5 separate regions of the Homo sapiens genome follow, and all the other regions are linked to region 3. Evidence: fine-mapped expression QTL. A gene starts in region 3. Each other region holds a variant in brackets. All regions are shown on one strand. Distances are between the middles of the regions.

What was found. PIP is the estimated chance that this variant, and not a neighbour inherited with it, causes the effect. A credible set is the group of variants that fine-mapping cannot tell apart.
Region 1: its variant is the best candidate, but not a certain one, in a credible set for the expression of TSPAN5 in unexposed skin (GTEx, PIP 0.71).
Region 2: its variant is the best candidate, but not a certain one, in a credible set for the expression of TSPAN5 in lung (GTEx, PIP 0.75).
Region 4: its variant is the best candidate, but not a certain one, in a credible set for the expression of TSPAN5 in fibroblasts (GTEx, PIP 0.59).
Region 5: its variant is the best candidate, but not a certain one, in a credible set for the expression of TSPAN5 in skeletal muscle (GTEx, PIP 0.64).

The regions. Positions count from the first base shown.
Region 1 is chr4:98,626,079-98,631,182 of GRCh38, forward strand. The region is part of intron 1 of TSPAN5 (tetraspanin 5); the gene reads right to left. Among named protein-coding and RNA genes, the nearest start is that of TSPAN5, 30 kb to the right of the region's middle. The variant G/A (reference allele first, on the strand shown) is at 2,935.
Region 2 is chr4:98,555,469-98,560,572 of GRCh38, forward strand. All of the region lies in intron 1 of TSPAN5 (tetraspanin 5), which reads right to left. Among named protein-coding and RNA genes, the nearest start is that of TSPAN5, 100 kb to the right of the region's middle. The variant T/C (reference allele first, on the strand shown) is at 2,137.
Region 3 is chr4:98,655,610-98,660,713 of GRCh38, forward strand. It overlaps TSPAN5 (tetraspanin 5), which reads right to left and starts at 3,002. Exons shown (of 8, transcript NM_005723.4): 1 at 2,537-3,002. The coding sequence starts at 2,617. It overlaps TSPAN5-DT (TSPAN5 divergent transcript), which reads left to right and starts at 3,293. Exons shown (of 3, transcript NR_148380.1): 1 at 3,293-3,413. LOC112267901 (a long non-coding RNA gene) reads left to right here and starts at 3,114. Exons shown (of 3, transcript XR_939016.3): 1 at 3,114-3,263. RefSeq lists silencers at 2,567-2,726, 2,980-3,159.
Region 4 is chr4:98,506,538-98,511,641 of GRCh38, forward strand. It overlaps TSPAN5 (tetraspanin 5), which reads right to left. Exons shown (of 8, transcript NM_005723.4): 2 at 1,141-1,191. Among named protein-coding and RNA genes, the nearest start is that of TSPAN5, 150 kb to the right of the region's middle. The variant AT/A (reference allele first, on the strand shown) is at 2,408.
Region 5 is chr4:98,608,608-98,613,711 of GRCh38, forward strand. The region is part of intron 1 of TSPAN5 (tetraspanin 5); the gene reads right to left. Among named protein-coding and RNA genes, the nearest start is that of TSPAN5, 47 kb to the right of the region's middle. The variant G/C (reference allele first, on the strand shown) is at 2,235.

The DNA.
Region 1 (5,104 bases), 30 kb before region 3:
GAGAATCACCTGGGGCTGGCTGTTGACAACACAGGTGAGATCTAATGAATGCTGGTTTCCCAGTGAAGAAATCTGCATCACTCACGAACAGCCCAGGTACATGCTGGTTTCCCAGTGAAGAAATCTGCATCACTCACGAACAGCCCAGGTACATCTTATGTATTCTAAAGGTTGAAGACCACTGAGTCCCCTTTATGTGCTAATAGGACAAACAGATACACAAAGGGCTTATCATAACCTCCCATAATTGATCTTAAATTGATCTCTCTGCTTCTAACCTTGACCCCATCCCTACATACCTGCTTATTCCGTAAACAACAAAAGGATTTTTAAGGCATAAGTCAGATCATGTAACTTCTCTGCTCAAAATTCCCCCAGAGTTTCTCATCTCCCTCAGTGGCAACAAGCCTAGAATAATCTCCCTGCTCTGCCTTTCTGACTCATTTCCTACCACTCTCCTCTCCCCTCCTGCTTGGCTCCAGCCACCAGACCGCCTCCTCCTCACCCCTGGCCCACCTGGTGCAGCAGAACCTTCACCCCTACAGGCTCCCTCTGCCGGGACCGCTTTCCTGCAGCTAGCCCCACAGCCTGTTCCTTCCCTTCCTTGGGGTTCCTGCTCCACAATCACTAGTGTGGGAGGCCTTCCCTGGCCACTTTATCAAGAACCTGCCCATCCCTTTTCCTGCCTGATTCGATCCTCTTTAGCGTTTATCACTATCTAATGATCTAATGTACTTGCTGTTTTACTTATTTTTTCTTGTTGGTTATCTGTTACCCTCCACTAAAATGTAAGCTTCATGAGAGCAGGTTTTTTTTTTTTTTTTTTTTTTGGTCTGCTTTGTTCTTAAATGTATCCCATTTGGCACGTAATAGACATCAAAAAATATTTACTGGCTAAAAGGATGAATGAATATCATCAATGCTCCAAAAAAGGGTACTTGATTAATGAAGCATTGTAAGAGAGAGCAACCAGCTTGGGGTAGGGGGCAGAGCGCCTAGCTCTCCTCGTGGCAGGTAACACTAGTGGGGTTTTCAAGGAAGGACAGAAAACATCTCCTAAGAAAAGGAAGGACATTCTACACATCAGCTGGCCTGTAATTAAAAGTGTCAGTGTCATGAAAGATGAAGGAAGAATGAAGAATGCTTCTAGAATGAAGGAGACTGGAAAGATATGACAGCTGGGTATGAGTGATCCTGAACCGGATCCTTTTGCTATAAAGGACGTTACTGGGATAACTGGAGAAAACTGAAGGGATTTTATCAGTGAAGGTTTATAGGAGTTCTTATTTTAGTATTTTTGCCATTTTCCTGTAAGTGTGAAGTTGTTTCAAAAGGAAAAAAAAAACACAAAAGGAACCAGAATAACACGAGTAAATGCAATGCATCAAATGATCTGTGAATAAAATGCCCACTGAATAAAACAGGGAAAAACAACAACTATTTCTTCCAAATGTTCCTATTTCCCTTACTCCCCCATTCCTCCATGAAAAACTTTGGGCCTGTATCATCTTGGCTTAGAGTCAGCCAAATACGGTCATTCTTCTTTAAGTATAAATGCAAATAAACCCCCTGGATTTCAGTGGGAACACAGCATGCAGCAGAACATTTGTGTGTATAAACTCTGTAGTAAATGACATCTCTCTTCTCCCTACAGAGTAGAAGCTTGATCTCCATGAATTGCTGTAACTCAAAACATACTTTTTACACAAAAATAATGATGGGGTTGAAAATAGAAAAAGTAAATCTTTGGACTGGACTGCTGTTGTGAGCCAAAGAGAATGATTAAATATAAAACAAGAGGGAAAAAAACAACAGCACTAGGTTATAAAAGAACAGATTGACATAGATTTTTTGAAACTGGAAGTTACAGGCAACATGCCTAGAATTTAGATAACAGTATTAAGGACTGAACACTCATCCAAACATCTACAGCTCCCCTGACAGGTCAAATTCCATTACAACAAACACCAGTGCAATAATAATCTGAGTAATCCAAAGCATTCCTGGTTAACGACCTCCTTAACTCAAGCAGTATGCAATATCTAACACCATTCCCCATTTTAAACACAAAAGTACAAACGTAAATACAGCAAGTGATTGTTCACTGTACAAAAGGACTCATCAGAAGTCTCCATAATAAGGTATAAGGGTTTTTTTCAACATCTAGACTAGTGTTTGTGGGGCCATTTTTTAAATACAGAAAAAAAAATTAACTTACATGCAACTTTTGAAGGACATGTCTAGATACAGTGGACCCAAAATGTTAACAGCAACTGAAAGCAAGCACAAGTTTAACATGACAACAGGAGCATCTATAGATTGACTCATGTACCTCCCAAGTCCCCTACTTTCCTCTGTAATGTGGGGTACACCACACTGCCTGGTATTGGTTTAATTTGAATTTTCTTCCAAATTATTAAAGTTGACAAATTCTCATTTTTTAAATATGAAGTTCCAGCCTCTCCTGGAAAATGGTTAGATCTGGCAACACAGGTACAGATTCCTGGGTCAACCAACAGCTAATGGAAACCAGCTCCCTGATAGGCATGGCAGAAGCATTGCTGACCCCTTTACCACACTCCCCATCACTCCCTATTGCATTCCCAGCACCCTTAATGGCTTATTTTCTGCCTGGTCCTTCTAAGCATAGGAATCTGCAACACCAGCTTTTAAAACAACTAAAACAAACAAACAAAAATTACTACTCAACTTGCTGATATATCAAAACTGAGCTGTATCATACATTGTCCTATGATACATTGTACATTGCAGAGAGAAGGCATGCTAAGTTAATATTATGGATAAATTACTTTAAGATTTCTCTAAATGACATTCTCACAAGCATCCCTGGCAAAAGGCAACATCTATAATCTTTAACTGAAAACACTTTGCTTTGGAAATGGGAATGCTTTGAATGTACCTTAGCTTATCAAA[G/A]CATAAATTTACTTGTTTTTAAATGAGTTCAAAACTAGCCATCATAGTTATTTATGTATATGTTACTGCAATTAAATAAAAAGGAAAAAATGCTTATAAACACACACATATTATCCTGAAACAGAAACAATAAGCATAATTACTCTAAAGTGGCAAAGAATGGATAATTTGTCTATGAACTATTTCACAGTCTTTGAGTTGTACTGTGTATTACACATAACCAGAATATCTTCAGTCTCAAAAAGACTATTTCTGAGCACACAACCAAGATTGCAGGCAAGTCACACAACCCCTCTGTGCCTCGATGTCCTCATCAGAATAATGTGAAAAATAATAGTGCAGACATCTTAAAGGGTTACTGGGAGGATTAAATGAGCTGATACATACAAACAGCACTTATAACACTGCCTACCACTATTGCCCAACCTTGTATCAATCGACACACTAGCCTAAAATGCTGATAAATTACGTTCTCCTAATGCAAACATTCTCATCTCTGCTCTGGTTTGCAGAATGAAGCAGTCTCCTGGTCTTTTATCCAAAGCACACTCCAGTATTATTAATTTAAGTTGCTGCTAAATCTCAAAAGTCATTAATAAAATGTAGTGATTTCTCAAATGGTTTATGGTCAGCCACTCTAAGAGGTACTTAATAGAAAAGAATTAGCTCAAAGCTGGTATCCAGATGATTTATCAAAACAACTATCAGGTTTAAAGAAAATCCCCAGGGCAGTAAAAACCCAGCATTCAAAAAACACCAATGAAGAAAAAGACTGTTGCTATTCACAAAGGTACAGACTGTTAGTGAGTGAATAAATGGAAGAATAAATGAATGAAGATCAAATGGGTTATTTGCTGCTGACCACAAACTTATGCTTCCCTTTCAAAAAAAAGTATTTTTAATCAGATCCTCTGCTTATATTTGTGTCATTGTTAAACTGTCTTGTCATACTTACATAACCAGGTAATAATAATCTATGAAAATACTCGACTAACCAACCCAAACGCTTTCCCTAAATCTTAACATATGCACTGACTGCATTTGGTGTGGTCAGAGATGGGCCCTGTCCTGAATTCACGCTCGAGTTGGGGAACAAAACTAACCAACAAGGATTAAGTGGTAACCTCTGAGTATCTACTAAACAGCATCAGAGTTCCTGGAGGGTTATGCCCAGGGTAGGCTGCAAGGGTGCTCAAAGTGAACAAGAACAGGACAAAGGCAAAGCAGAGGAGGCACCAAACGAAAAGCACTGCAGCTGTTCCAGCCATGAGGCCTGATGGAGAAAACAACATGGCACATGTTCTGCTCAGCAAATCCCTACCCGCCTCCAATACATACAGCAGCACCACCTCCTCTAAAACATTCCCTCATTACCTGATCTTTAGACTTATACACCACTTCTCGTTTATGTGTGTATTTATTTATATGTTTTTCCTCCATTGGACTGAGAGCTCTCAAAGCACAAGAATCACCTTAATCCATCTTGTATTGTCATCCGAGGCACGCATATTCCCTAAACATCCCTGGATTGAATGAAGATGACTTAGCAAAGGGAGGGATTCTCTCAACCCGGGAGACTGTGCACATAACTAGAAAGGGAGGGGCCCACGGAATCCAACGCCAAGCTTCCTGTGCATTGGTGCTACCCAGGAGAAAGGAGTGCCCCTGTCCTCAAGAAACTTAAGTCCACTTAGATCACAAAAAGTTCTCTGAGAAAGTATGTGAAGGGCTCTATTTAGACAGCTATTTATTACTCTGAATTTGAAGCCCTCCTCCCCTTGAAGTAAGGCCTACTGGCTTAAGGGCCCTGCAGAGCTAAAGATGTGAGGATAACTTGCCACTGGTGCTTAGCACAAATAGCGAATGAGAGTTCACTGGGAAGTACAAACGAAGGGAATCAACTTACTCATAAATCTCAACACCCTTTCTTTTGCTCACTGGCTGAGAAACTGCCATCTGGAAGGCTCAGCAGATAGATGAAAGGCATTATCACAGTTCTACTGGAATATTTCTGCTTGGCAAAGAACACAAGATGCCAGAACTTGAAAAAAATCATGTAATTCTGATGACCTCATTTCACCTTTCTTTTCAGCCAATCCAAATTCAGCCTGTTGTAGATATTTAACAATTAGAGAAACCTTGCAATTACTTTGCTGAATCGCTCGACTGG
Region 2 (5,104 bases), 100 kb before region 3:
ACTAACCACACTTCCTGAAATTATTCCTTCTAATTATATCTGTAGTTGTTTTTCAGCTGTCTCCCCTAGTAGGCTGTATGCATCATGAGAATGGAGACCATGTCCATCTTATCCACTTGTGTTTCCCCAGCACAGTGCCTTGAATACAGAAGGTATTAAAAAAAATTGGCTGTATGAATGATATTTCCCAACCCCTTAAGTTTTCAGGTATTATGCTAAAAGGGTAAATATAGAAATAAGTAAACAAGTAGTTAAAAATTAAAAATTAGCTTGAATACAAATTTTCAGACTGCTTTCATGTGCCTTGCTTTACCCACAACCAGCGGTAGCAGCTTCATGGCACTAATGACAAAACAATAAACCAACAGCTCCTCAGTAATCTGACCTACCCTGTTAAACAAAAAGGATCCACCACACTGTTAGGATATCCTTAGCAAAAGCAAAGCTACTAATTCATTCTTTTCTCCTCCCTGCAAAAAGACTGAAAAATCACTCCACACACGCGCGCGCACACACACGTGCGTGCGCACACACACACGTGCACAGCACACACCCCCACACACACAGCACCCCCACACACACACACACACACACACAGGTAGGAATGGCTCTTCAGCACTGAACTGGCATCTTCACCTACTACCCAAACCACTGGGACTTCACAATCCTTACACACTGTCTTGGCCCCAGATGCAGAGACATTTTATGCCAAATCTGTGGGTGGAAAAGTCAATTCCATCCTTCCTGTAGAAGGATACACAGATGATTGTTATACAACTTTAGGATGACCCATGCTTTCCTGTCTCAGGAAGCTCCCAGAGACTCCCTAACTGCATCTCATTCACCCACGTGGTGGGTTTCAAACTTGCTCTGATGATAAAGCACTGGGAAGCAGAGCTGCCTATTGAGGAAAAATATGAAACACTGAGATACTTTGCTTCTTTTTATGAACGAGGAATAATTTTTCTGGCAGAAATGGCAGTATATGAATGCCATCTAAAACCATAGCTTATACGTACCTGGCAGGGGAGATTATTTCAACCCTAAGAAAGAATAAAAAAACACCATACCCTAAACTTGCGTGTTCTCAATAAAATAATAGAGTTATTAAACTAACTGGTTGTGTCCAAATTTTTCTGTTAACATTCTTTTACTACTTATTCATTCATTTTCACTAATACTCACCAAAAGAGATGTGGTAGCAAATGCCAAACACTTATGAAATGTTGACAGGAGAAAAACATGAAACTGAAAAAGTTTCTATTAGCCCATTTTATTTTCCTTCTGTGGATTGAGATAGGCCATTATTCATTTTTAGCAGTGGGGACTACTGGGCTGGGTCTTTTGAAGTCCAATTATTATCATTCTTTGCCAAAGATAAGGAAAATAGACTTCTATATTTTGAAGAAGTTTCTAATTCTCACCAAGTTTATACTCATCAAAAAGTGAAATGATTATTTCAAAATAAATTTGTTAAAAATTATACCAATATTTTGAAAGAGCCAAGAAGCCAAATGACCCTTATTACCACATTGTATTATAATGTGCATAAATGTTAAACATGAAGTAGTTTAAACATTGACTAAACAGAAAATCTGGAATCATATACTCTTATTGAGAGCAACAAAGTCAAAGCCAATTATGAGACACCAAAGGATGTCTTTGATAGTAACACTTTAAAAATAAAGATAATAAAATAGTACATTTTATCATACTAGCGTTTTTATTTTTCTAAACAGAATACACACTGTATAGTAACATATAAAATACAAATAGGTCTGTGGTCTCCAAAAATGACACTAAATCAACTGAAGCAGAAGAAAATGCACAAATGGTATTAAATCATGACACAGAAAAAGAGAGGGTAGCATCTGGCACTTCTGGCGTGCTACTAAGAACACACTCGGGGAGGAATACAAATTCTACAGTCTCTGAACTAGGCAGGGTGGCTGCAATTTGGGAAGCTGTTTTTTTCCCTTAGGTAGAATAAAATGTTCATCAGACCACATTTGTAAGTATTCACTCAATAATGAATACAACAGTAACCATTTTAACATCCAAGTAGTTTTTAAAATCACACACTTAGAAATACAACTGAGAATTCCAAATAATTTATGTAAATATTCTGCCCACAAC[T/C]GGGAAGGGCAAAATTCCCCATTCCTTATGCAAGGGCTGTACGTAGTGGCCTCCTTCCAAAGGAGGTGGGCCGAGTCACTTTACAGTGGAGAAATCTGGCAGCGGATTGCATCGGCCACGTGATCAAGATTATGTTGACATGATCACATCAGTGATAAGTCATGTTGACAGGATGTACCCCTGATACAACAAAAATGGCACTTAACCTCTGTGGGTCTTCCCCTAGTCTAATCATGAGAAAAACAACAGACAAATCTGAGGAACATTCCACAAAATACCTAAACACTATTCCTCAAAACTGTCAAGATCATCAAAAACAAAAAGGTCTACGAAACTGTCACAGCCAAGAGGTGCCTAAGAAACCATGAACAACGTAATGTAGTGCCCAGGGTGAGATCCTGGAACAGAAAAGGACATTAGGTAAAACCTAAGGAAGTCTGAATAAGGTACAAACTTTAGTTAATAATAATATATCAATATTGGCTCATTAGTTGTAACAAATGCAGTATATTAACATGTAAGGTGTTAGAAATACTTGTTCCCCGGTGACGCAAAGAAACAGCACTCGAACATAAATTTAATCATCTTAGCAAGGCCATTTTTATTAAATGTATGTTCGAATGCTCATACATTTATTTCTCTGCAGCACCAGGGAACAAGCATTTCTAACATAAGGTGTTAGTAACAGGGGAAAATGGGTGCACAGTAAATGGAAACTGTACTATCTTTGCAACTTTCCTGTAAATATAAAACTCTTCCAAGTCTCACACTGTCCCCCTGGATCTCAATCTGCTGGCTAAGTAAATCCATACTGAATTTAGAACAGAGATTATTAGGCAAAAAGTTTTTAAAGTTGCAGCGAAGGGAGGGTAAACGGCTTGTGCACCGCTGCTAGCTAATATCCACAGCTTCCCCAGGGACTTTAATGTGGTGGCACTTGAAGAGATTGGTTTGCCAATCGATGGGCTGCTTTTGAGGCTCTTGATTAACATATGTAGAGTTCCAAAGTGCCTTGAAAGCTTTCTATTATCTCAGCACTCCAAATGCAGTTTCTAAATGCTGATATTCAGTTTCAGCTTTTTCCAGTTTCTTCTTCAGCCTTCCACATTCATGATCACCTGTTCACCCTTAGCGAGCCTCAGAGCAGAGTGGAGTTGCTTGAAACCCATGTGGGCAAGCTGACCTACTGTGGATAGGCCAGAGTCTAACTGAGGGACAGCAAGATTTTCAGATGGTCTTTAGACAACAAATTGAAAATGGTAATTCCTTTTCTTTAGCAGCAGGGCATAACCTGTGAATGTCTTCTTGTTTAATCTCCCAGCACTCTATGATGTAGGTCCTGTAAATGCCCTCACTTAAATAACAAAGACACAGAATAAGCCAGAAGAAATAACTCCCTTCAGAGTGGCAGAGCAGAATCCTAACCCATGCCTCTTTGCCTAAAACCTGTACTGTCTCTGGCTTGCATGTTCCCTTCCATGAATATAATGCAGTAAAACACCGTGGGAAACAAGCCTTTCAAGAATTCAAACAGTATTACTAGACAGTAACGACACTAAGACAATTTCCCTCCCATGTTTTCTACAGCAAAAAGGAATCACTATTCTGGTAAAAATTTCCATCAGGCTGGGATCTTCCTTTCCAGTATTTCAAATTTGGAAATCATAAAAAATAACTTTAAACACAATACAAATGGCTAAACATGACCGGATATTCAACATGAATATTACTGTCATAACAGGGTAATGGGGTGATATAATGACGGGGAAAAGTTAGTATCTTTATTTATCTCTGTCTTTTTGCAGAAAGGAAGGAAAATTTATAAATCTGAGTAAGAAGAGTATAATAAAGAAATGGTTAAGTAGGAGTTCACAAGAGGGTTTAAGCCTTTCTATGTGCTAAAATATGACATACACACTCTATTTTCTTGAACACTATTTTAAGGCAACTTTTTTATTATCATTAGTTACTGATTTTCCTTGAATTACTTTAATAACCACTATTGGAAATACTCCATAACATAAGTAGGCTCGAAAAGCTTTTCTGCATTTGCAAAAACTGTAACCATAGACAAGCCATAGCCCCTGTATCTTCAGACAGAATCTGAACATTTTTAGCCCCTGTATCTTCAGACAGAGTCTCAACATCCAGGTGCTCCTCTAAATTAAAGCTTAATTTTCACAATTGGTAGAAAGCAGAAATTTGAGTCAACCAGCTGTTAACAGCCCACAGAAAACCAGCAAGCAGACTTAGTTATTTTTTCCTTAAGTGTAGAATAAATTGACTGACTGTATTGAGCTGTTTTTGTGTTTCCCCCTCCAGAGATGTCACTTCCCTGAAGAATTTCCACCAACATATAACCAATCCTTTCAAAAAACAGGCGTTCTCTTAAAATTAATTCTTATCATTTTCTAATCCACAACATCTTAAAGTGGAAAATGTAATTTTTCTAAGCAGAAGTATATTTTGTTTGTCTCCAAGTAGATTCTAAATTCCAATCAGATTTAGTCCAAATGCCACTTAATGACTTTGTGTTCCAACCCAGATAACAAGACAAGCTGCTAACTTACCATTTGGTGACAAATACCTCTTTCTTCAAGTTTCCCCCACTGGTGTTATTATTAGCAATGAAGAGAGTGGCTCATAAGCAGACTTTTTCAAAAGCTAAAGCAGAGCAGGGTAAATTTTCATCCCTCATGTTTTCCCCATAATCTGTAAAATATTTCACTTAGATTATCATGATTTTCTAAAACTTTAATATATTTACTACAGGGAGATTTTCTAAATATGCTGTTAATTAGTTTGTTCATTCCACAAACATATTTAATTGCTTCTAAATGCTAAGCACAGAGAAATAAAATTGAATGAGATTGAAGAGACTAATATCTTCAATTGAGGGAGGCAGGGGGCGTGTTTTCCTTGTTTAGGACGTGCCTCCAAGGCCTGTCTAGCATGAGGCTCCGCTCAG
Region 3 (5,104 bases):
ACCATGCTGTTGGCAATCTCTTCTTCATAATTGTATGGGAGTAGCACCGAGTCTGCTGTTTTTGGCAATCACAGACAGGTTGGTGACTCTGTAGAGAGCAGAGGTGTGTAACTTTTCAGAAGCAAGCTGCCAAGCTACTGACCCCAGCTTTTCAGTCACTAACATCTTAGTCTGAATTACTTTAACCAAAACCATATGGTTGCCTTTCTGTTGATCATCACTAGAGACCATGGTACAATAAAGCAGGAAATTTAAATATGGGGTAATTTTGAGGCAGAGAGCAGGATAGGAAAGGTATGAGGGAGTATCTGAGAGGAAGGCTTTGGGCACAGAGAGGAGAGGAAGGGAAGGCAAGAGGCAGGGTAAGTGAAGGGCCCTCATAAGGAAGGCACTCACTTAACAATTCTGCCTGGGGCAGCTAGTTTAGTCCCATAGCCTAGGTCTCCTTTCAGGCTTCCCATACTCACCCACCCACCTATGAAGACCTTCACAATCAGAAAACATGCGGCTCTGTTCTGGACCTCTCCAAGCAAGCACTCTGCAATTCTTTGAAGCTCTCTACAATTCCAGGGGTTTTGCTGCAACCTAATCCATAGAAAGGGCTAAATTTGTCTCTATGCACTCCACAGAATTACAGCAAACTGTCAGGGAAACAGACCCAAATCCTTTTATTTCCTTACCACCCCCTGCTAGGAAACGGCAGAGAAAGTCCCTGGGTGCTTTTTGTTGCTGGGTAGCTAAAATGTGCAACTTTTAGAAATGTTCAAGTAGAAACAAGAGGCCTGAACTCACTACCCCAAAAAGAACCAGTCCCAGTTCGGTAGTCCGTGCCTCTCCAAGTCACAAAGTTTCAAGTTCCAATCAAATCAGAATATCTTACTCAAAACCGTGGCTACCCACCACTTTTAAACATTTTCACAAATGGAGAAGGGGCAAAGAAAGAAAATAATTCCTTCTTCCTGTACTTGTAGCAGTGTTTAATTGCAGGGAGGTGGGTGACTGCTCCCGGGAATCATGCACAACACTGGCAAAAAACTGCCTGTGGAATGATCGGATATGACATCCATTCATGTGTCCCCTCATTATCTTTATTAGTCCTGAAGACAGATGACATGCTGACACGGAAAGTGGTCTCCAATCCCTTGCATTTCCCCTCACAAAACATACATGACCAATGCAAGGTATTATAATAGAAAACAGAAAATAAAATAACCTGGTAAGAGTGCGGTACAAAAAAAGAATATGAAGAGCCGTATTGACAACTATTCTCACAGATGTATATACGTACAGCAAACAGCCCAAATTAAAGGAGAATTCAAATAAATACATTCCGTGTTCAGACTGCTGTGGATAATTATTGATCCTGCAGTTGGAGCATTGTTTACCTCACACTGAACAGCAACTTAGAGAACCCCCTACCCAGACAGCCACCATCTTTACTTTCTATGGAAATGCGGGTGCCCACTGAGGAAGAGGATGAGATGGGATGAGAAGGGGAAGAAAAATAACATGGTCTTTGAACCAACGTTTTCCCCTTGTCCTGGAGAACTCTTTGTCTGGCTGCTGAACACGTTTGCCAGATCAAGGAAAAGAATCAAAACAAACAAACAAACAAAAAGAGTAGGCGTCCCAGCCTAATTACAATAGGTTCCCAACACATTGCAGTCCCAAGCAGAGCATCATTTGAATCTTGTGTTAAAGCATTTGCTCTCTCGGTTCCCCAATAAAACATGCCTCGCACACCTTCTCCTTTGCATTTCTACAAAGGTTCCCCCAAACGGCCCGCTCTGTGTCACTCCTTTAAAAATGAGGACGTGGGGCAGGAACACACTGAAATATATGTTGACGGTGACTTATTATCCTGACGATGATATATACATACAAATAAATCCCTCTACCCCGCACCCCCACTGACCAGTCCATTACGCACAGGGAGCGCTTTCCAGCTGAAGAGGAGAGCGTGCAGGAAACGTTATTTACGTGCAATTACAGGACCATATACCACGGCATCTGCATCCTACACAAAGCCCGAGATGGTGCAAGAAGATACACGCTGAGCATGGCACAGACCAGCCGCGGCAACACGGAGCCAAGCCCTCGTCCAATCAGATCGTTGTTAGAAGGTGGACCTCAGGGTCGGCCGTGCCCGATTAGCCTTCCCTATTATGACACCACGCTCTGCCCAACATCTATATCCCACCGAGAGCAAATCCAATTCGTGTGGTTGCTCATTTCTCAAACTGCCGAACCCTTTCTTTTATCTGCATCCCTGCTATTCGTTCCTCAAAAAGCCACCAGAAGGCCTCGGTGCCCCCTTTCCGCCTCGATTTCTCTTTTCACCTCTTCCCATTCCTCGAAAGGATTAAATGTTTATCTCTCCAACGCGCAAGCTGGAAAGGCGGAAGGCGAATGCCTCTATGCTGCTCCGGCAAGCGCCTGCGGGGCTGCGAAAAGTAAAGGCAACGAACAACGTGGGGGAAATCGTCGCGAATCGATCGGCCACAATAGTTGGAATCCCAGGAGCGCTCCAACTTACCCAAAATATGACATTGAAGCCAAATATGAAGTATTTGATGCAACAACTGACTTCAGGACCCTTGTAGTGCTTCCCGGACATCCTCTGGGTTCATGAAGACACTTGCCCCGGCAGCCCGAGTTTGGAGCTCCGAAGCACCGTTGCTCGGAGCAGCCCGGCGGGGAGCAGGAGCTCAGGGACACCGCACGGGGCCGCGGCGCTGGCGGCCTGGGCTCAGCCGCGCGGGGACCGACCGGCGGAGAGCGGCTCCCGCACCTCCAGCCCCTCGCGCGCCGAGGCCGCCGGAGCCGGGGTGGCCGCGAGAAAGCAGGGAAGCCGCGCGCTGCAAGCTCAAGCCTCGCCGACGCTAGCCCCGAACACAAAGCGAGCGCCCGCGTCCGTGCGCCAGGCGGTCGGTCCGTCGGTTCGTCCCCGGGCTTCGGGCAAAGGCGGCCGCGGCAGATGCTGGTGGAGACGCCGCTCGCTTGCTCGCCCGCCCGTTCGCGCGCGCCCTCCCACCCCTCGCTCCGCCCGCCTCTCGCTCCGCCCGCCCGGCCGGCTGCTCCTCCGCCCGCGCCGCCCGCAGCTCCGCCCGCCGCCCAAGCCTTGGCTAGGCGCGCGCGCGCACGGGGTCGGGCGCTCCCGGGCGGCGGTGGCACCACGTAGCCGCCTCCTTCCACCGCTCGCTTTATCCCCGCCCCTTCTCGGGCCAACCCCAAGCGCCGCTGACCCCGAACGTCGCTGCGGGGTAGGTAGGGGGTGGGAGGGTGGAGGACCGCAGGCGAGAGGGAGAAGGAAGGGCGCCCGGGGAGCAGGCTGGCAGAGTGACCGGGATTGATGAGCGGCGCAGCTCTGGAGGGACGCGGGCGAGAGGGTCGCTCCTCGGGGAGAGGGCTGGGTGAGTGAGGACCTGCGAGCCACCCCCGACACCCCTTCCAGGGTAGCCACACTGGCGCCCCCTCCTCCACAACAGGCTTATGTGGCTAGAGAAGATGCGATGCCACTGGACAGGGAAGGAAAGTCGTCGTGGACTTCGCTGAATGGAAAAGGGGGTAGTTGGGGAAGGTGGAGAAAAGAGCCACGGGAAGTGGGAGGAAAGGATGAAGGGATGGGACGTTGAAAAGGAAAGCTTCCTGAATCCCTGTGTGACTCTAACCCAACCTCCCCACCTACCGGAGAAATGGGTTTTATCCTAGAAATGGGGACGAGGAAAAAGAGATGGCTCAAGGGAGTCCTGGCCCGGGATGCGATCCTCGCCCTAGGGTCTATTGCAACCACACAAACCCGGACAGCGCACGCTCCCCCCTACCCCGACAGAATAGTGCCTAAGAAACCTGCTTGCCTCCTAACTCTAGGAAGGAATCCACAACGGATTCCAGGGAGGTCTTCTGGGGAATCTGAATTGGGTTTTTGGATCACGAACCATTAAGCTTTTGAACTCTGGGGAAGAATAGAACAGGTGGCTGGAAATTGTTTTAGAACCCTACCTGAGCAGGTGTGCTCATTAGTTGCTTATCCGCCCTCCTCCTGGAGCACTTTCATAGGTGTTGGCAAAGCAGGTACCAGTATTTCACGGAAGGAGAAGGAAGAACCGCCCAGGACTGTGTATAAATGTCTATGGGAATATTTTTAAGGATTCAAAAGGCTAGAAGGAGGTGAGATCAAAAAATTTTTCCAGCACCACCCAGTGCAACCCGATCCTGGACACAGAAATCTAAAAGATGATACTTAAATACTTGAGTTTGAGAGCCTCTAGTTATAAGGTTTCCTACGTAACAACCTCTCACTTTTCTCAAAAACTGGCTAGTTGACAACCGGCAGTCAAGTTTTGGCTAGTCAAGAAGCTACTTTTTCCTGCAATAAACCACATTTAGAGATAGTACTGGGCTTCAGCAGGATTGAGGCTATATTGAGGTCGCAAGTATGAACGAGGTACCCACAGAGATGGGAGGGCCAGGAGATCCTACTCATTCAGTACCTCAGAAGCTATGACACGGGATAACAGTAGCTTCAGCCCTTTGGATGAAATAATCCTCACTCCCTCAAAAGTGCTCTCTACCCACTCAAAACACAGGCCATACTACCACCAATCTGGTAGACTTCAAAAGTAAGGTCTTTCAGCAGCAGATTTCCTTGTTAACAGGAAGGTACTGACAAGCTTTACCTAAGCCTATTGGAGCTATGTTGTAATTCTGTATATAAATAGAACAGTCGCTGCAGGAATACTGGATGAGTCAGAAGAAAGGTCTGTCCTAAGCTGATGTGACACATTTCAAAAGGACCAGAAATTAGATGCAATTGATGACTGAGTTGATCTCTAAGTGGATTTATCTTTGAAATAAAAATCAGTGGATATCCCATATACCCGACCCCACACCCTCCCCCATTGTCAACATCCCCAACCAAAGTAGCACATTTGCTACAAATAGTGAACCTACATTGCCAGATCATTATCACCCAAAGTCCATAGTTTACATTAGGGTTCACTCTTGGGGCTGTATATTCTATAGGGTTGGACAAATATAGAATAACATGAACCCACCCTCATAGTATCATAGTATCATACAGAGTATTTTCACTGCCCTAAAA
Region 4 (5,104 bases), 150 kb before region 3:
CTGTCTGAACATTGTTTTAGTTGTGGAAATGCCTACTGGCCTCTGAGGGGCTTTTGTTGACTGGACCTTCCCAGTTTTTCTCTCCTTTCTTAATGCATTTACCACTTCAAAGGAACTCTCAGCTTCAGGCCAGGGTCAGGCTAGAGGGTGAAACACCTACGGGATCAAAGAATGGTCTTCTGGGAAATTTTAAGCTAGATTTTAGTTTATGGCAGCTTTTAACCATTCTATACATCCCCTTGTCCTTACGTGGGAGATAATAAAGCTTTTGTGTATAGCCAGATACAAGGATAGATGAAATGCTGCAGGTGATTTCACTTGCAAAGAAGGAAGGAAAAAAGCTGGGAGGAGGGGGCGGGTGTTTATATTCACTGTTGAATTCCACTGGTGGCCTCAGTAGGGGGAGCTGTAGAGAAAAATTAGAAGGTGCGATGGGAAGGAGAGGTGTGGACACAGGGGGTGTCTGCATGAGTGCGTTGCTTAGAGCAGAAACTGCCCAGAACATTGTATCTTCACTGTCACATAGATTACTCTGTATTTCCAGATTTTCCTTTTATTATACTGTATTTGATCATAAACTGAATATTTCTTAATACTTGCCACCAGCAGCCAAACATTCCCATTATTTACATTAATGATGAGTGTATTTGATACTCAAACATGAAGTTATATCCCACTTCCTTCAATCCACATGCTAATAGTTGTTTACCACATAACACACTAAAAAAAATCGTTTTTATCTTGAGTTATCTTCCAAAGAGTTGAAGAAAAAAAGCAGAAGAGAAAAAAAGGCTACAGGTGGTTTAGTGATATTTATAATCATTACTGGAATTCTTGTGCCTGAGTGAGAAAATATCCCATAGGAACATCGATCTTTGGCTAACTGATCAAATTCCAAGGTATATTCTCTGTTGAGCACGTGTATTGTTACTTCAGTAATTATTTTGATGCAGTCATCAATTTAGGCACAATTCCTAAAGTGTCTTTGAGAGTATGACATTAATCTTCCACCAACACTTTTTCTTGTTAAAGAGCCATGTTTATACTCTGTGGTTGTCAAAGAGAAAGGGGGATAATACATAATATGATGTGCAGCCTCTAACAACCACGATGTGTGCATTGTCATGATATTCAACTTACTTTTTCATTCCATGCCCACAGTCCAATTCCAAGAAATGTTATTCCCAAAAACTGAAAAAGAAAGAAAGCAGTGTAAATATAAGGGAAAATGCCGCTAATATAAAGAAGAAACTTTTCAATCAATTCTTTTGTCACTTTACCTGGCTGGGAAATAGCTTTTCCTAAAGTGTGAGCACTTATCTTTACCAGGAAAATAAATACCATAATCCCCCTACTTAAAATTTTTACAGCATTAAGAAGGGCTGGAGACACACAGTTGGTTAGAAGTCATTCAGATTATGAAGAGTAATAATTAGGTAGAATCCTGAGTACACTGAAATTATCAATAACATTTAATATGCTGCCTTTTAGGGTAGGGGAGGAAACGGATTCCCCATGGATCTGAGGCCTGTGGTCACTAGAAAATGGATAAGCAGAGGCATTAACTTAGAGGAACTGGGATCTTCTCTTCAGTATTGAGCCATTACAAATGGGCCAGGTCAGCGAGGGGCATGTAGAGCCTTGGATGTCCCTCTTTGATCATGCCTTCCAAAGGTAACAAGAATCTTATCAATGTAACCCAAAGAAAATTCCTAAGTTCTGTTTTCAGAAACTTCGATTGTGTAAATTTTAGTTCAGAGGACCTCCCACCACCCTTCTTGGTTTTGACTCAGTTCCACAACTTCATGCATACACAGAGTATACAACACATGGGACTGAGTTACGCATTCAGCCCTAAGGCAGAGGCACATCTCATACATACCCACAAATCTCACCGTTCTGTCAATTAGCTGTGTTGAGGACTGGGGGAATGCCAGGAGAGGAACAGGTGATAACCAGGAGGGCTTTCCATTTTACTGTTTTTCTTTTTTTTTTTTTTTTTTTTGAGATGGGGTTTTACTCTCTCACACAGGCTGGAGTGCAGTGGCTCAATCACAGTTCACTGCAGCCTCAACTACCCAGGCTTAACCGAGCCTCCTGCCTCAGCCTTCCAAGTAGCTGGGACCATAGGCGCATGCCACCATGCCTGGCTAATTTTTCAATTATTTGTAGAGACAAGGCCTCACTATATTGCCCAGGCTAGTCTCACACTACTGGGCTCAAGCAATCCTCCCGCCTCGGCCTCTCAAAATGCTGAGATTATAGGTGTGAGCCACCACTCCCGGACTAGGGCTTTCCATTTTAATTAATTCTCACTGTATTCCATCTGCTATAAGATACATATATTTTCCCCACATTTGAACACATCTGAAATTGGGATGTATCTTAAAATCCATGGTATCTCATA[AT/A]TTTTTCCCCCTTGATATAGAAAACAATGGAGTGTTTTGTAACTGGGGCGACACAGACTTGATGACACATTGTACAGAGCTGTCCACCCACTAAAAATCCAATGATCAGGACTGTGTGTAATTGGCCATGAGTAAAGATATGCTTCATCTTTATTATCAATAGCAACTCTCAATTTCCTTTCCAAACACTGAAAAGAGACAAGAAGTTTCAGTGTGATGGCAGCACACCGTTTATTTTACTAACATCTTGATTAAGTTAATGTGAGGAAAGTGGTCCACTGAGAGGGGTATGCAGAGAAAAAAATGAGTGAGAGTGGTTATTTTTTACAGTTCCAGGGAAATCCGAGACCTGCCCACTGGGCAAGGGCTTCACTGTTCTCAGCAGGGAGTTCCTGATACTTTGTAAGCAATCACTAATAAATCCAAACGGGACTTGGACAGATGGCAGGAGCAGAAAGAAAAGGGGACTGACAAAAGACAATTAGCTGCTCCGAAAACATAGTGGTGTTTTTAAAAAGCAGACCTTCCCGAAGCTCTCGACACTCATCTGACATTGAAGCAAGACAACACACAATACATTCTGAGCCCTATACAGAAAATCATGTCCTTGATTTGGCAAGAACTGAAGACCCCTTTCTTCCTACCCCTTGCTCTTATAGGGGACTCCTTGGAAAGTGTTCAGAAAGATTTCTCGTTTTACTATCCCAACTGAAAAACCGTGCTCAGCCCTGGTCAGAGAGCTATTTCATTTTACATTTCAGATCCAAAACAAGTGAATCTCCAAAAGACTCAAAGGTACTTAGGACTCTGTAGCACAAAAGTAAAACAATTCAGCATGTTACTCTCATATTTATAGGTGCTGGGCAAAAGAGAACGACCACTGACAAGTGAGTGTACAGGCTCCCATGAGACCTAGGAAGCACAGAAGCACAGAGTTAAGGCTTTGACTTCAACCCATTGACATCAAACACAACCCAGTGAAATGGCTGACTTTCCAATGCTGAAGCTCCTCATGGACAAATGTTTGGTTATTTTCCCTGACGCAGTATTCACTGTCCCTCCTGCTGCTGATGGTGTGGACATGTTCCTGCCGAAGGCCTCTGCTTGATCGCTAAGATTTGTTTTTATTACTTTCCAGGCATCATGCTTAGTGCTTTGTGTGCAATGTCTCTTTAAAGCTTCACAACAATTTTACTCTGAAATAGGCGCTCTTATTATCCCCTTTTTAGGAAAGAGGAAAATGAGGTTTAGAGAGTTTAAATAACTTGCTCAGAGGCACATAGCTTCTAAGCAGAGGAGCAGAGACTTGAACAAGAGAAATACATGTTCTTAGCAGTCCTGATAAATTCCCCTTTGCTCCCATGATATAAAAAGTTGAGGCATTCAGGCTGGAATTACATGGTACATGATCAGCATATCATATATTCCTCCCCCAGCAAGCAAAGGGGTGTGGAAAAGGTAAAGAGAGATAAAAACCTTGCCTTCACATAAGAACTGGCTGTGGAACAGAAATTCCCCACTTTGGTGTCCACAATGGAGTTAAGCAAAAGAACAGAGAAATTCAATGGTGGGTCCACATTCTCCTTTTTAAATAAAGTTTTCGTCTCTCCTCTTGGCACTTTGAGACAACTTTTTTCATTCACGAGCCATATAAATAGCTTGGAAACCAATGGTTTTCCATAAAGAGGAGAGAGAAAAAAAGTAGGGATTTAAAGAAGACTCACAGACAATTTCCTTTATAATCTTGCTCCCATATTTCCTGCTTTGACTGTGACTTTCCAAACAAGGGTTTAAGAACTGGGAAAGAACACAATTTGAAGTTAAGGGAAACACTCAATACCTAAGCAAGCAAGTGGTGCAAGCCTGGGCCTCAACTTGATACATACCTTCAGTGCTACATCACTAGCAAATGTCCTCCCAATTATTCTCAGACCATATGTTTTGTTTTAAAATCAAGTTGTTCCAGTTCCCAATAATTAAACAGAGAAGAGCCAAAAAACAGAGACAGGCATGCAATACTTGAGGCACATTCAGTTTCCCCTTCCCACCTCCCAAAGAAAAGACAACCATAAACCACGAAACTGACCTCATTCTGAAACCCAGGGAGGCCCACTTGCAGGAAATAGCTGAGAAGTCTTAAAGTCAACCCTTTACTCTTTTGAAATGGAAAAAAATATATCTGAGGCATCTTATCTGAGGCATCTTCCCACATGGCAATATATGCAAATGTACAGTACAAATGTTTGTCAACCCAAATTTTGATGTTTTAAAATAAATAACAATAATTTTGCCGGCATTTGTTGAATGCTAAGTATGGCTAAACTACAGCCACGTGTTGCTTAATAAAGGGAATACGTTCTGAGAAATGTGTAGTCATGCAAACATCATAGTGTACTTACACAAGCCTAGATGGTACAGCCTATGACGCACCTAGGCTATATGGTATAGCCTATTGCTCCTAGGCTACAAACCTATACTGCATGTCACTGTACTGAATACTGTAGGCAACTGTAATACAATGGTAAGTATCTGGCATCCAAACGTATCTAAACATAGAAAAGGCATAGTAAAAACACAATATAATAATCTTATGGGACCACCATTGTATATGCAGTTGGCTGTTAACTGAAACATCATTATATGGCACATGACTACTGTTTCAAACTGAGCTGCACTGGTAAGTGTAAAGTGCAGGC
Region 5 (5,104 bases), 47 kb before region 3:
ATGATTTTCCTCCTCTCCACTGTTCAGAGGCAGCATGCTTCTCTCCAGGAAAAAGAAAAAAAAAGAAAATCCACAACATGTTGCCACTGTTAGGGGGGAAATAGACTATGTAAACGCAGTGCTGTGTTTTTAACCACTAAAAACCTCACTGTGTCTTCTTCATCAGTCTCTCTCCTCGACAGTTCTCTCTGACTTGAAGTTGAGGACTTTTCCCACTAAGTCCACAACCTTATACTCGCCCTCAGAGAGATGTTCGTTTCTTCTTTTCCCCACCACACCCTGTAAACTCTTTTCTGTCGCTCCCACAGGAAACAAAACAAAACAAAACTGTAGTTACTAACACATGGCACTTATTTCTGCTTACTGAGCAAGGTATCTCTTATCATAAAAACCAAACTTTACCTCTCACTCTCTTGCACGAGACTTACATTTAGAGGGTTTCAGGTAGCAAGTCAGGATTAGACTAAGAAATCACAGTGGTCTAGAGGGTAGTAACAGGAATGGATGCAAAAAAAATGAAAAGAAAAAAAACCCAACAGCTACCACCACTAGACCAAGATTTTCAATCCCCACTGTAACATTTAAATTCAACTAAGAAACCTTAAAATATATACACATACTGCTGTCCAAGCCCCATGCCTGACTATTTAGGTCGGATTTGCTGGGGGTGAGCTCTGGGTGTTGGGAGTTTTTAAAGCTCCTGCGTTACTCTATTGTGCAGCCAGAGTGGGGCGCACCCAACCCCGACCACTGGCTGGGGGAGAGGGCCAGGGCAGTGCTCGGAATGCTGGAGGTAAAACCAGATGGCATCACTGCTTGTCCCTTTTTGCTGGTCCTCCTGGGTAGACATGATCACCCAAGTCAGGTGTGTACAGGCAGCCCATTCTCTGAAAAACAGTGGCAACAGCCAGCAGCCCCTGTAACACAGGACACAAGAGTGGAGCAGTGAAGGAAGCTCCCCACGAGCACTGTCCTGAATACAGTCTCCAGCCTCTCGTGTCCAGGTGCAGGTCTACTCTGAGCAAGCTTTCCTTTGCAATGTATTGAAGGACAATGTCTCTGGGTGCTTAATTACTCTCATCAGCACCACCTCTCAGTTCAGGGGTAATGTCCCAAACTCCTCTTCCCTGGGTGGTCAAGGCATTATCTGTCCCTTACCTAGGGAGGCAAGAAGACCCCACACCCAGAAAGGCAGGTCTGGGAGAGACCAGGGGAGACAGGGCTGAGCCTGACGGACAGTGAGTTGAAGGATTCTGAGCAGAAGGGGAGGGCAAAGGTAAGTCAGAGGCTGCCTGACTGATTTCTCTGGCTTCATAAGCAGAATGCCTTGCCTCTTTCAAGCAGGAGGGCTCCTCATTTAACACAAACAGGCTAATATAATTCGCAGAGGCATTAGCCCAGCTGCTGTACAGCAAAGGCCCCGGGCCTAGACAGCCTTCTCTCCCTCTGAGCTCATCTTAGTCCATTCTGTGTCACTATGACAGAATACCACAGACTGGGTAATTTGTAAAGAAATAAACTCATTTCTCACAGTTACGAAGGCTAGGAAACACAATACCGAGGAGCTGGCATTTGCAAAGGGCCTTCTTGTTGCATCATCCCATAGTGGAATGCAAAAGATGAGGGGCAGCAAGAGATCGAACTCAGCCTCAAGCCCTTTTATAATCAGCACTAATCCCCTCATGAGGGGGAGCCCTGATGACCTAAACACCTCCCATTAGGCTCCACCTCCCATCACGGTTACACTGGGGACTAAGTTTCCAATATATGCTCTTTGGGGGACACATTCAAACCATAGTAGAGCTCCATTCAGTTGCTACCAGTAGGAAAAATCTTTCTTTAACAACTTAATGACAGGTAAATCAACTCCAACTTCCCTCCTATTTGAGGTTCAAAATTATCTACATAAGTAGGCCCTTCATGATGAGCAGGGCTGGCCCTGGCCATCTTACAGGTACCTTCAATTACTAGACCACACAGCACCCAGGCAAAGAACTGGCGCTCAGCACGTATCTGTCGAGTGAATGAACTGGTTCCAAGAAGCATATTCAAGCGTATGTACAAAGAGCTGCCTATTCATTTAGGGCTACAGTAGGAATATAAAATGCTCTGTGGTGCCCCTTCATTATACATCTCTGTTAGCTAACAACTCACTTAGGGCTGCTCACCCACCCTAAGGCTGTTCAGGGAGGAACGAGGACTAATGTGGTAGTCAGTGCCCCGGCATCCTCCCC[G/C]CTACTCTTTTTAGTACTGAACTCCCCTAGCTCTAGTCAGGCATGTGATTCCCCCTGACCCCGCTCCCCAGGTATAGACTATATTTCCTAGGCTCCCTGGGAACTAGGTTTGTTCCTGTGACTATACCGTGATGTGATATGACTCGATGTAATGTGTCCAACTTTGAGGTCACCCTCTTAAAGACACAGCCACTTGCACCACTGGCTAAGACATGGTGACAAACGGAGCCATCTGGACAGCCAGGCATGGAGGAAGGCAGAGGAACTCCTCCAACCCTGACTTCTTAACTCTGGACTACGATCTGAGGACACACTGTACTACTCAGGGATGTCCTTGTCACAGAAGAGATTAGTCCACACCTTAACATATTCCAGAAGGAATATGAGAACCTGTTTTCCAACCCTGAAACAAGCCTCTAATTTGTCTAGGGCAAGTGAGTTAGCCTCCCCCTTGCACAATTTCCTCCTTTATAAACTGGAGATGAAAGCACCCGGTCAATTTTATTAATACTAAGAATCAACTATTAAAGCACAAATGCATTGAAATGTGATGTGAAGCAGCCTCTGTGAATGAAACTATATCCAGGCAGCACACACTGGTGGGAAGTACTGCCCCAGAAGGAAATCTGCCATACCAGAATATTACTATTTTTGACAAGAAGCTGAAATGTGAGCTCAGCATAGCATTATTCTAAAATAATGAAAATATGCCAGATGCTTACCAACATGAACTGTACACACTGATTGCACAAATATGTCCATTAAAACTAATAACACACCAGGGGAGAAAACAAGCTGCCTCGTCTGTGAAGTGGACCAATCATAGTTTCAATTGTGCCTTACCAGGTAAGAACAGGGTCTTCCCAGGCAAGAATGTGCGACCCAGAAGTCACTGAGGTTTGTCCCAGGCAGGGCTATCACCAGCCCTTTTGGCACCTCTGAAGGAGTCAAGAAATGGGCCTGGTGATTTGCTTGCGTAAGAAACAGAAAAGAACACCCTCTTCCTCCAGACTGACCCAGCTCCATCCCCTGGCCTGGGCCGTGGAGGGTGGCGAGTGGGCTGCATTTCAGTGGATTCCACCCTCATTTGCCCTTCAGCCAGGAGCCCTTGTGTAGGGAACCACCACACAACTGCATGCAGGGCCTGGTCCCAAATTTACAATGCACATGGCATTGTTATCAATAATGTAGTTAGAACTAATGTTTCCTAGGAATCCTAATTCTACACAGACACTGTCACCTGTCAGTAAATCTGCCAGAATTCCCTCGCTGGAAACTGACGTATATTTTATTCCAAAGAATAACTAAGTGAATGCTCTTTCCCATCTCTCTTCCATCTGAAGAGATGAGAAGCAGGAGGAAGAGGAGGGGGAGGAGGATGGGGAGGTGAAGGGAGAAGAGGAGTGGGGAACAAGAGGAGCAGGAGGAAGAAGCAAGCAAGTTCCAAGCAATACAAAAGGGTTGTAGGTGAATGAAGGCTTACAGCCCAGTCCTGCAAGCAGCAGACAGGATGCAGGGAATGAAAAGGCTGGAAGACAACAGCCAAATATCAAAGGATTTACAAGAACAATGATGTATCCTTCAATTAAATTCTTTTGCTTAAACTAATCTTTCAGTTCTTGTCATGTTCTCAAATGAAATCCATTTACAACTCCCAACACAAAGCCATCAGACACCCTAGAATTTGCTTAGCAGACCTAAACAGTGACACTGCTGTAACTGGCAAGGACCCCTTTTCTTTTAAAGGGACATTTTGGCAAGTCATTTCATAACCAAGACACTAAGGAGCACAGAATAGAAACAGCAGGCCACCTGCCATCTCTGCCAGGAGCACCATCCTCTCCCGCTCCCCGCGGGGCTCCCCCCGCTCCCCTATCTCTGGCCACAAGTCCCAATCATCTCAGCTCTTCAAACCCACCAAGCCCTCTCCACATCAGGCCTCCCTTACTCTGTCCCCTCAGCCTGAAATGCTCCTTCCTCCCTCCCCCCACAGGGCTAACCTCTCCATCCCTGAGTTTTCAGCTGCGGTCTCACTTCCTCAGAGCGGCCTTCCCGCCCATCAAAACTACATTCTTTCTGCCAGTCTCTTACCCCGTGTTTTATTTTTTCACCGTAGCACTTATCACAATTTACAATTATGGTTTTTTCCCCCTGCAGTGTTTATCATCTGGCTTCCTCACAGACGTACACACCAAGAAGTCAAGAATCATTTCTGTCCTCTTCACCATTTTAGATGGGTGCCCAGGCCCAGAACTGGAGATTAAGTCACAACACATCTGGGTTGAGGGCAAAACCTTTTTTTTTTTTTTTTTAATTCCACGGGTGATTCAGATGCACAATGCCCTTTTGAGAGAAGTACTAACTTGACATTTTCCTAGCAAATTAATATACTGAAATACCAAGTAAATCACTCCATATGAAAGAAAAAATTTACAGTAATGCTACAATTTCTGATAAGCACAATCTCTTCATAAAGCAGCAGGCTTACAAATGTTGCCTATGCTTTCTCTTATGGTATTTCCAGATATGTTTACTAGACCATAAGTTATTGTAATAAAACCTACCCAGGATATTATGGTTTCAACAAGCACACAGAAAAGGTATTTTGCAAATGAACAAGAATCCATATAAACTAGGCTAGTTTAGTAGTTGCAACCATTTTACCCATAATCCTGTGCTCTCTAATTATGCAAATATGGCCTCTGCAAAACACCAAGGTCCAAAATCCCTTCCCTTATAACACAACAGGGTCCCAGACTGCTTACTTCAATGACTGTTAATATGCCAACCTTTCCCCATAAAATTCTCTAGTCCCTATTGTAAACATCAAAATATCTGCCATACAACCAAGAAAAAAAAAAGTGACTGAT